3 linked regions of the Homo sapiens genome follow. The protein of the gene in region 1 purifies or fractionates together with the protein of each later gene. This does not show direct contact. Each region holds a gene or a part of one and is shown in the gene's direction. Other genes may lie near its edges.

Region 1 (3,762 bases):
AGGGCCGCACAGCTGTGTGGCGCAGGCATGGCTGCGGTTGTGGATAAGATCCGCGAGAACAGAGGACTGGACCGTCTGAATGTGACTGTGGGAGTGGACGGGACACTCTACAAGCTTCATCCACAGTGAGTGGGCCTTCCAGTTGGGATGCGCAGAGCTTGCTGGGATCCCTTTGGGTTAGGGGGTATCAGGGTGTGGTTTACGCTGGGGAAATGCCCTGCGGGAGCCCAGCCAGGCTGAAGGCTGTGCGTTCAGGAGCTGGGGATTGTCTAGGACAAGGTAATGAACAGTTTGTAGGGTTTGACTGGGATCCTTAGGGAGACAGAGAAGTGGCTTCACTTGGCCAGCTCACACCAGTGGCATGATGTGACCCTCACCCCACTCCTCCTGGTCCCCCTTAGGTGGGGGCTAGGCAGTGGGAGAGGAGGTGAGGGTGGGCGTGGGCTCACTCATAAGCCTGGTGAGCTGTAGCCAGGCCAGAGGCTCTGTTGGGTAAGTGGGGAGAGGATATTAAGAAAGGGGAGGAGCTGGGTGCAGTGGTTCACACCTGTAATCCAGCACTTTGGGAGGCCTAGGTGGGAGGACTGCTTCAGTCCAGGAGTTTGAGACCAGCCTAGGCAACATAGTGAGACCTTGTCTGTACAAAAAAATTTTGAAAATTAGCCAGGGATGGTGGTGAATGCCTGTAGTCCCAGCTACTCGGGAGGCTGAGGGAAGAGGATTGCTTGAGCCTGGGAGGTGGAGGTTGCAGTGAGCCCAGATCACGCCACTGTACTCCAGCCTGGGCAACAGAGTGAGACCCTATTTCAAAAAATAAAATAGGAAAGGAGGATAGCCACTCTCTTGTTCATCTGCTGAATCAGTTTGCTAAGACTTGGAAGGGCGGGAGCGGTTTGGGCCCTGGGCTTCATGGCAGGGAGGGGTAGGGAGTGGCCTCCCTCTGGTCAGGCATCTGACCCCCCATGCCAGAGAAGGACATGTGATTGCACTTGCTGTGTGATTGTGATCCACCGCATGTCTCACCTTATGAATAGGGTGACCATATTATTTATTTATTGTCTACACTAGGGTACTCTTGCCAGTCAAGAGTGCTAATAATTATTACTCTGGGACTGTAGGCAAACTAGGACCATCCCAGATAAATGAGGCCATAGTGTCACCCTACTTATAAGCAACCTCACCCGACTCAGTGTAGACATTACCTGCTTACCTCATGGCCGTGGCTTGGGGTGGAACCATCTGTCTTGCTCCATCCTCACCTCTGTCTCTCCCCCTTAATAGCTGTCCTTGCCATCAGCTGAGGCAGCACACAGGAGTGGTTTAGAGCTAGGCTTTGGAGCCACATACTCTTGGATTTAACCCTGGCACCGTCACTTAGAATCTGTGTGCAATTGCTTAATCCCTGCAAAATCTCATCTTCCTCATGAGGTGGCAGCCACTGGCAGGACTAGAAATTAGAGCTGTAAAATATGGGGCACCTAGTAGGTCCTCAAACTCCTTGGCTCAAGTGATCCTCCCACCTTGGCCTCCCAAAGTGCTGGCATGAGCCACCGCACTCCGCCCACCTAATAGGTCCCCAACCAAGGACAGTGACTACTTTTGAGAGCCCCTCACCACAAGCATCTTCAGCCTGGCCCTGCCCTTCATTTTGAGCCCAACTTACAAGCATGTAGATTCAGCCTTTGTTCAGATACTATCTTCACTGGAAGGCATTCCTGTCTTTGGGGGCCAGGCTGTTGATGGTGGGGCGCTGGGGGTCTCAGGGTTGCAGCTGGAGATGGGTGATATTCATTCCTGCATAGCCTCCTGAACCGATCCAGTGCTTGGCTGGCTTGCACCTGCCTTAATGATCCATGTCAGCCCCTAACATCCTCCTTGGTTTTGAGGTCCCCCTGGAGCCTCAAGCTCCGATGTGGGTGTGTGTGTTATTCATGTCCTAGCCTTCATAAGCCATACAGAGCAGTTGTGTTTGGATTCGCAGTTGGGCCTCCCTGCTGAAAACTGTGACAATGGGATTGACCGTGGGCCCACTTTCCTCCCAGCCATTCTCAACTGGCCACAGCTGCTTCTAAGCAGCCTGCCTCCCAACCATGTTCACCCTCCTTGTTGTTGGGTTCAGAGTCTCTTTGACTTCCGATGCTTATGTCCTGATAAACCCATCACAAAGTCGAAGAATCCTAAGTCGAATCATCACCAGTCAGGGGGCTGTCTGTGCTTTGGTGTTTTCGGGTAGGCCCAGCGTCTCTCATCTTCCTCCAACTACCTTCTGTTTTCTCGTCCTTTTTAGCTTCTCCAGAATCATGCACCAGACGGTGAAGGAACTGTCACCAAAATGTAACGTGTCCTTCCTCCTGTCTGAGGATGGCAGCGGCAAGGGGGCCGCCCTCATCACGGCCGTGGGCGTGCGGTTACGCACAGAGGCAAGCAGCTAAGAGTCCGGGATCCCCAGCCTACTGCCTCTCCAGCACTTCTCTCTTCAAGCGGCGACCCCCTACCCTCCCAGCGAGTTGCGCTGGGAGACGCTGGCGCCAGGGCCTGCCGGCGCGGGGAGGAAAGCAAAATCCAACTAATGGTATATATTGTAGGGTACAGAATAGAGCGTGTGCTGTTGATAATATCTCTCACCCGGATCCCTCCTCACTTGCCCTGCCACTTTGCATGGTTTGATTTTGACCTGGTCCCCCACGTGTGAAGTGTAGTGGCATCCATTTCTAATGTATGCATTCATCCAACAGAGTTATTTATTGGCTGGAGATGGAAAATCACACCACCTGACAGGCCTTCTGGGCCTCCAAAGCCCATCCTTGGGGTTCCCCCTCCCTGTGTGAAATGTATTATCACCAGCAGACACTGCCGGGCCTCCCTCCCGGGGGCACTGCCTGAAGGCGAGTGTGGGCATAGCATTAGCTGCTTCCTCCCCTCCTGGCACCCACTGTGGCCTGGCATCGCATCGTGGTGTGTCAATGCCACAAAATCGTGTGTCCGTGGAACCAGTCCTAGCCGCGTGTGACAGTCTTGCATTCTGTTTGTCTCGTGGGGGGAGGTGGACAGTCCTGCGGAAATGTGTCTTGTCTCCATTTGGATAAAAGGAACCAACCAACAAACAATGCCATCACTGGAATTTCCCACCGCTTTGTGAGCCGTGTCGTATGACCTAGTAAACTTTGTACCAATTCAAAGACCCGAGTGATGCTTAATGGCTGGGGACGGGGGGACAGGCAGAGGGGGGTGCAGTTTCTTGGGATGTGGCAAAGACCAAACACTGGGGAGTTTTGTGGCCTTCTGGGCGGAGGAGTTTTTTTTTTTGAGATGGAGTCTTGCCCTGTCACCCAGGCTGGAGTGCAGTGGCACAATCTCAGCTCAGTGCAACCTCTGCCTCCCGAGTTCAAGTGATTCTCCTGCCTCAGCCTCCTGAGTAGTTGAGACTACAGGCGTGCATCCCCACACCCAGCTAATTTTTGTATTTTTAGTAGAGAAGGGGTTTCACCATGTTGGCCAGGCTGGTCTCCAACTCCTGACCTCAAGTGATCTGCCTGCCTTGGCCTCCTAAAGTGCTGGGATTATAGAACAAGGCCACTTGGCTTCCAGGCTGCTTGGGTTCAGTGAGAGGACTGCAACACTGGTCCCCTCTCTGCCATCCCCACCCGGATCCTGCCCTTCATCTTCCTCTCTGCCAACCCCAAGACAAAGGATGAAATGTGCTCTGCCCCACCCCTCCCCTCCCTCTCTACCCAAACACAGATGAAATCTTGAAGCAGCCCA
Region 2 (3,726 bases), on another chromosome or scaffold:
ACCACACCCGGCTAATTTTTGTATTTTAGTAGAGGCAGGGTTTCACCATGTTGGCCTGCTGGTCTGGAACTGCTGACCTCATGATCTACCCGCCTCGGCCTCCCAAAGTCCTCCCAAAGGATTGCAGGCGTGAGCCTCTGCGCCCCGCCCACGTCATTCTTCATGTGGAAGTTTTTCTTTCTTTCTGGGGTCAGTTGTGCCTTCCCTGGCTCAGGGTGTCAGCAGCATTCACCCACCAGCCTGACCACCTGCTCATAGAATTGCCCAGAATGTTAGAGCCGAAAGCGCTGCATGGATGCCGCAAGGGCAGCCTGTAATCCCAGCACTTTAGGAGGCCGAGGCGGGCAGATCACCTGAGGTCAGGAGTTTGGGACCAGCCGGCCAACATAATGAAACCCCGTCTCTACTAAAAATACAAAAATTAGCCGTGGGTGGTGGCGGATGCCTGTAGTCCCAGCTACTCAGCAGGCTGAGGCAGGAGAATGGCGTGAACCCGGGAGGCGGAGCTTGCAGTGAGCCGAGATTGTGCTGCCACTGCACTCCAGCCTGGGCGACAGAGTGAGACTTTGTCTCAAAAAAAAAAAAAAGAGCAGCAAACATTTACCATCTCATGTGGCTTCTGAGGGTCAGGAATCTGGGAGCAGCTTAGCTCAGTGTCTGTCCTGAGGCTGCAGTCAGGTTCGGTGGAGCTGCAATCTTTTGAAGCCCCCACTGGGACACGAGGACTGTCTCCAACACAGTTCACTCCTGTGGCGCCTGCATGTACCCACACACACCCACACACACCCCCACACACCCACATACCCGCACACCCGTACACACCCCCACACACCCCTGCACACACCCCACACACACCTGCACACCCCCGCACACACACCCCCCACACACACCCACACACACCCCTACAGCAACGTGCACACACCCCCACACCCGCACACACCCGCACACACCCCACACACCTGCACACACCCACACACCTGCGTGCACACCCCCCCACACACCTGCACACACCGCCCACACCAACATGCACACACCTCCCCCCCACACACACCCACGCACACACCTGTACACACACACCTACACATCTGCGCACATACCCGCACACACCTGCATGTAAACATGCACACACACGCACATCTGCACGCACATGCGCACACCTGCACACACCCACACACCAACATGCACACATCCACACACATACCTGCACACAACTGCACACCCCCGCACACACCCACACACACATATGCACACACGCACGCACACCTGCACATACCTGCACACTCACATGCACACACGCATGCTGGTGCAGCCCTGCCGGGGAGCCTCCAAGGCCCTCACTCCAGAGTGAATAGGAGGGTAGCCTTCTCCGTGGGGGTCAGCCTCTCCCTGGAGGCCAGGGCGGGGCAGTCACCCTCTCTGTGTCTGGAGAATCAGTCTGGGATTTAGAAGGAATAGTTGCTTTTCTTCCTAAGGAAGTTTCTCATGTCTTATACCCTCCAGGTTCGCATCGCTTTGCAGCTGGACGATGGCTCGAGGTTGCAGGACTCTTTCTGTTCAGGCCAGACCCTCTGGGAGCTTCTCAGCCATTTTCCACAGATCAGGTGAGCATCAGTGGGCTGGGGGCTCTTCCCTACCCTGTTTGCTGGGGAAGCTGCTGTGGTTACTGGGTCTGGTTCAGAGCTGGACACCCAAGCTCTGTGCTGGCCTGTGGTGCCTCTTGGCACTTTGCAGTCCTTTGTAGAGGAGGGGTGTGTGGGCTGCCGGTTCATGAGCAGCAGCCTCGGGGATGGCTGGTCACAGCTCATCGTTCTGAGTTTCCTGGGCCCAGCGGCCCAGCCTTGCCCACCTAGAAGAGCAGGAATGTGCTTCTGTCCTTGTGGGGGCCTGGTGAGCACTAAGGGGAGACGTTCGGTGCTGGGGGCAGGGCTCCCCATGCTTGATTCCCCTGGATGGGATCATAAGGTCTCTTTTTTTTAAGAGGCAGGGTCTCACTATGTTGGTCACCTAGGCTGCTCTTGAACCCATGGGCTCAAGAAATTCTCCCATCTCAGCCTCCCAAAGCGTTGAGATTACAGGTGTGAGCTCCTGTGCCCCACCAGAAAATCTTCCTAATAGTAATTGGATGGCTGGGCACAGTGGCTGGGCACAGTGGCTGGGCAAAGTGGCTTGCACTTTGGAAGGCCGAGGCTGGCGAATCGCTTGAGCTCATGAGTTCAAGACTAGCCTCGGCAACATAGTGAAACCCCTTCTCTACAAAAAATAGAAATGTTAGGCCAGGCATAGTGCATGGTGGTGCGTGCCTGTGGTCCCAGCTATGCCAGAGGCTGAGGTGGGAGGATCACTTGAGCCGTGGAGGCAGTTGCAGTGAGCCGAGATCGCACTGCTGCACTCCAGCCTGGGCAACAGAACGAGACTCTGTCTCAAAAAAATAAATAAATAAAAATAAGTAATTGATGTGTATCAGTTTCTGTCGGTTAATGGTTTAAACGTTGTTCCTGAATGTGTAAAAATTGGTGCTTTGTCAATTTGGGTCTTTTCATCGTTGGCTGGAAGTCTCTGTCCACAGTAAAAGGCTCAGCAGAATGGAAGGGACTTGGGGCTGGGGTTTGCTGTGAGCCAGGGGGTTCTCGCCCTCCCCGGGCCTCAGTTTCCTCACCTGTGCCCCGGCTGGTGTGTGGATGGGGTGAGTTCATGTCTTGAGGACCGAGCATAGGGCCTGTGGGAAGGTGACCGCGCGTCGGGCGCTGGGAAGGTGACTGTGCGTTGGGCGCGCTTGGTGGCCCCAGGGCTGGGCCTGCTCCCGTCTGACAGTAGTGCCGCGCTGCATGGCACGGGTGTTGCGTTCGTGGGTGAGAGCGCTGAGGTCTGCACGTCGGGTCTCAGTGGTCATGGGGATGGAAGCCACCCCAGTGGCTGTCGGGGTGAATGGAGGCCCCTGGAGATGGCAGCGGGTTAAGCACGAGCACGGAATTCTCCCTCCCAAAACGGAACTCAGACAACAGTGACGGAGCCTAAGAGCAAAGCCAAAGCCACGGGCAGGGGTGAGCGGGACCCGAGGCAGGAGATGACGGAGCCTAAGAGCAAAGCGAAGCCACGGGCAGGGGTGAGCGGGACCCGAGGCAGGAGGTGACAGAGCCTAAGAGCAAAGCGAAGCCACGGGCAGGGGTGAGCGGGACCCGAGGCAGGAGATGACGGAGCCTGAGAGCAAAGCGAAGCCACGGGCAGGGGTGAGCGGGACCCGAGCCAGGAGTGGCGCCGGGCAGGGAGGCAGGCAGCCCCAGGCGCTGTGTGGGCACTGGGTGAGAAGCAGGGATCCCGGCGCCCTGGCTCTGTGCTGCTTCCTGAGACGAGAGTGGCAGAGGGCAAGAAGAAAACCAAACAGCGCGGGGAACAGAAGTCAGGAAAGATGAACGTCTGGAAGGAAATGCCCCTGGGCCGGGCGGTGCCCCCGGGCGTGAACAGAATCCAGTGCTCCCACAGGCACAGGTGCTTGGTGAGGGCCGTCCTCCCTGGCTGTGCTGTCAGTCCTCAGATGGGGATGGAGGTAAGGAAATGGCCCAGAGTGGCCTGGGGCTGCCACTGGGGAGGGGCCGAGGGTGTCTGGAGAGGTGGGGCCGGCATTGTGGTAGCATAAGCCTCTTCAACAGACTTTGTAAACCTCGTGTGAAACTTAGTTTAAGAAACAACAGGCTTGGCCAGGCGTGGTGGTTCTGGAAGTGGCTTTGG
Region 3 (3,500 bases), on another chromosome or scaffold:
ACATCATGGTCACCATCCGCCCCCATGTCTTGACTCCTTTTGTAGAAGAATGTCTAGTAGCTGTAAGTTGTAACTTGCCCTAATGAAGTGGTTTAACTCAGTAAATAAGGAATTATAAAAACAATTCTTATAAGTTATGTAGTGTTTTTTTTCTGTTGCAAACACTAACATTTTAATGTGATCACATACATTACTAAACTCAAACAAAGAGTGTGTTTTGGCTAGTTTTAGTGGGTAGGTTAATTTGTTGTCTGGGTAATACGGAATATCTTCGAGAAATACATTAGCTTTTTAAAGATAAAAGGAAAAACAGATTTGTGATCTCATGTTAATTTTGTTTTAGATTTTGAAGTATATCAAGGGCTGATTTTTGCTAATCTTCTTAGATGCTCTAAGGCAAAAAAAAAAAAAAAATAGTGCACATGTATATCATTTGTTAGAGTAGTTAGCACAACAGAAACTCCAAACCTTAGATTCCCTTTCACCGTGTATGTGTCGAGGCCACAGAGTTACATGTGACAGCAGAGCCCTGCAGTTGTGTTTCATGGAGCCTCCCTCCTCCAGGTGTCAGCTGCTGTCCTTCCCTCATGGGCCCTGGGGATGTCCTGCAACATTCTGTGGTGGTGGTTCTTAAGACCTGCTCGTGGAGCACCAGAATCACCACTAAAAACTATTAAAACTACAGATTCTGAGATCTCTTCTAGGCCTATCATACACCATCTATAGGCGATGAGGTCTTAGAATCTAATTTTGTAAAGCTTCTGGGTGATTTTGGTAATAACTCAGTTTTAGGACCAATAGCCCGTGGTAACTCTCCTTTTGTTAATCCCAGGGAGAATACTGTTTTCACCATCATCTGGGTTTCCCACAGTGCTTACCATAGGCAGGAACTCAGAGTAGCCTTTCAGTTTCCTTTCTTCCCCCAAGTCCTTAGTTCTAGAGACATGGTATTCCAACGAGGCCTCTTCCATTCTGGCACTGTGTTAATCTAACTCCTTTTCTTGGGCGCCCCCTTCTCTACTCCATACTAAACTTTCATGTCAGCTATTTTAAATGATTACTAAGTGAAGATTTATGTGGTTGTTACCTTGTAAAGAAGTGCTTTCCTAATAAAAATATTTTGCCTTGCTAGGGAAGGATAGAATTTGAAACTCCAAACTGAAGTCTCATTCATAATGGACATTCTGTCTGTTTCCCTTGTCCCCTGTGAAGAAATATGGTTTCTTAAAAATTCTGATTATCAGAATTTTTACTAGTCTTAACCCCCCATGAAAGTATATGGCATCTCATAATTTTACCATAATATGCTTGTTTGCTAGAAATCCCACCAATGTAAAGTCTGTACCTAAATGATTATTTATTACTGGTTATAAGTAACTTGACAAGTCTTGATATTAATGTTACATTGACTACTTTTCATAGTATGTTTGCATTGATACAATACAGTTTTTCATGCATAAGCACACACATGTGTGCATATGTACTTATAGTTTTTGCATGTTTAAGCCTTTAAGATTTGCTCATTAGATGAAATAAACCAACTTATAAAACATTTCCAATTGAAATTTGAACTCTAAATTACTACTAGTCCTGTTATAATCCTACACATGTATTTATTTAGTTTTCTAGGAGTTGTGTATGGAGAGTACAAGTTCTGGTCATGATTAGTTGCAGTTGCTTCTAAAAATCATTTATAGCTTTTTTTTAATGCAAAAGAAAAATACTTATAGTCATTTCTTCTTGTACATGCATTTTTGATTACTTTCAAACTAGTTTTAGATGTATGTACTTCTGAATCATCTATAAATCTTTTGTATATTTTTCTTCTCTCTTGTTTTCAATTTATTTGAGGCTGCTGGAGGTACCACATCCCATCAAGTTAGTTTCTCCTATTTTAATGGATTTAATTCGCTCCTTAACAACATGGAACTCATTAGAAAGATCTATAGCACTCTGGCTGGCACCAGGAAAGATGTTGAAGTGACTAAGGGTGAGTGAGAATATATCTGAATTCTAGCCTGCAAGTATTGTGGTGTATTATTATTAGGGTGAAGAAGGCAACTAGTACTTTATTATTTTTCTATCCCATTGACACATATTAACTATATGATAACGTGTGTTTTTCATCCTTTGATCAGACAAACAAAAGCAAACAAAACAATCTTCACCAAGTTTTAAACAAACTGGGCCCAGCTTGGTGACTCACACCTGAAATCCCAGCAGTTTGGGAGGCCGAGGTGGGTGGATCACCTGAGATCAGGAGTTCGAGACCAGCCTGGCCAAGAGGGTGAAACCCTGTCTCTACTAAAAATACAAACATTAGTCGGGTGTGGTGGTGGGCACCTGTAATCCCAGCTACTTGGGAGGCTGAGGCAGAAGAATCGCTTGAACCTGGGAGGCGAAGGTTGCAGTGAGCCGAGATCACGCCACTGCACTCCAGCCTGGGCAACAAGAGCAAAATGCCATCTCAAAAATAAATAAATAAATAAATAAATAAACTGAAGACACCCTTTGAATAAGGAAAACATGTAAAGTTTCTTAAATATTTTCAAATCTTGCTACAGCTTGAGCTAAATTGGCAACCTCTAAGGAAGCCTTCAGGTGTATATGAGGAATTCCATAAAGTTGCATTGGTGACAGTGTAAGTTGGTCTGTAGGCTTGGGACAGGATATTATCAGCATTGTAATGGGATTAAGAAAAAAAATCAGAGCCGGTGCGGTGGCTCATGCCTGTAATCCCAGCACTTTGGGAGGCCGAGGCGGGCAGATCATGAGGTCAGGAGATTGAGACGATCCTGGCTAACACGGTGAAACCCCGTCTCTACTAAAAATGTATATATAAAAAAATTAGCAGGGCATGGTGGCACACACCTGTAGTTCCAGCTCCTTGGGAGGCTGAGGCAGGGGAATCGCTTGAACCCAAGAGTCGGAGGTTGTAGTGAACCGAGATTGCACCACTGCACTCCAGCCTGGGCAACAGAGCAAGACTCTGTCTCAAAAAAAAAAAAAAAAAAAATCAGAATTCCCTTAGGAATTCCACACCTTCATTAATATAACCACCTAAATTAATATAATTAATAATCCTAATTTAACCAGTTAATTAGATTAATATAACTTCCCCTCCTGGGACCTATGCATATGAAGTTTCATATATGATTCCTTATTTTCTCTGATTGGCAATTTGAATAACATCAGATGACCCCAAGCTTTTAAACTGTATATTCAAGAACATATTCTGCACACGCTTTCCAAATGGATGCAAGAACTGCAAAAATTCTTACCTTATTTGGATTGACTTGAATTCTACAACTGATGATAATAATAAAGTTTTGTGATGTTCACTCATTCCAGTGCCTTGAGTTAATGCTGAATTTAGTGGCTATTTCTTCTTGAATCTTTCCCTTTTAACTTTTCTTCCATACAGAGGAGTTTGTTCTGGCAGCTCAGAAATTTGGTCAGGTTACACCCATGGAAGTTGACATCTTGTTTCAGTTAGCAGA

What was found.
Region 2: the proteins of HK1 (region 1) and ASPSCR1 purify together in Homo sapiens (affinity purification with mass spectrometry; 2 studies listed by BioGRID and IntAct, with this or other methods). This does not show direct contact.
Region 3: the proteins of HK1 (region 1) and SLC25A13 fractionate together in Homo sapiens (co-fractionation; one large-scale study listed by BioGRID). This does not show direct contact.

The regions. Positions count from the first base shown.
Region 1 is NC_000010.11:69,398,704-69,402,465, forward strand, and holds the end of HK1 (hexokinase-1), read left to right. Parts: coding exon 1-125; intron 126-2,287; coding exon 2,288-2,432; 3' UTR 2,433-3,179; downstream 3,180-3,762. UniProt on the Homo sapiens protein: Catalyzes the phosphorylation of various hexoses, such as D-glucose, D-glucosamine, D-fructose, D-mannose and 2-deoxy-D-glucose, to hexose 6-phosphate (D-glucose 6-phosphate, D-glucosamine 6-phosphate, D-fructose 6-phosphate, D-mannose 6-phosphate and 2-deoxy-D-glucose 6-phosphate, respectively).
Region 2 is NC_000017.11:81,984,007-81,987,732, forward strand, and holds part of ASPSCR1 (tether containing UBX domain for GLUT4), read left to right. Parts: intron 1-1,500; coding exon 1,501-1,601; intron 1,602-3,726. UniProt on the Homo sapiens protein: Tethering protein that sequesters GLUT4-containing vesicles in the cytoplasm in the absence of insulin. Modulates the amount of GLUT4 that is available at the cell surface. Enhances VCP methylation catalyzed by VCPKMT.
Region 3 is NC_000007.14:96,189,599-96,193,098, reverse strand, and holds part of SLC25A13 (electrogenic aspartate/glutamate antiporter SLC25A13, mitochondrial), read left to right. Parts: coding exon 1-62; intron 63-1,851; coding exon 1,852-1,990; intron 1,991-3,424; coding exon 3,425-3,500. UniProt on the Homo sapiens protein: Mitochondrial electrogenic aspartate/glutamate antiporter that favors efflux of aspartate and entry of glutamate and proton within the mitochondria as part of the malate-aspartate shuttle.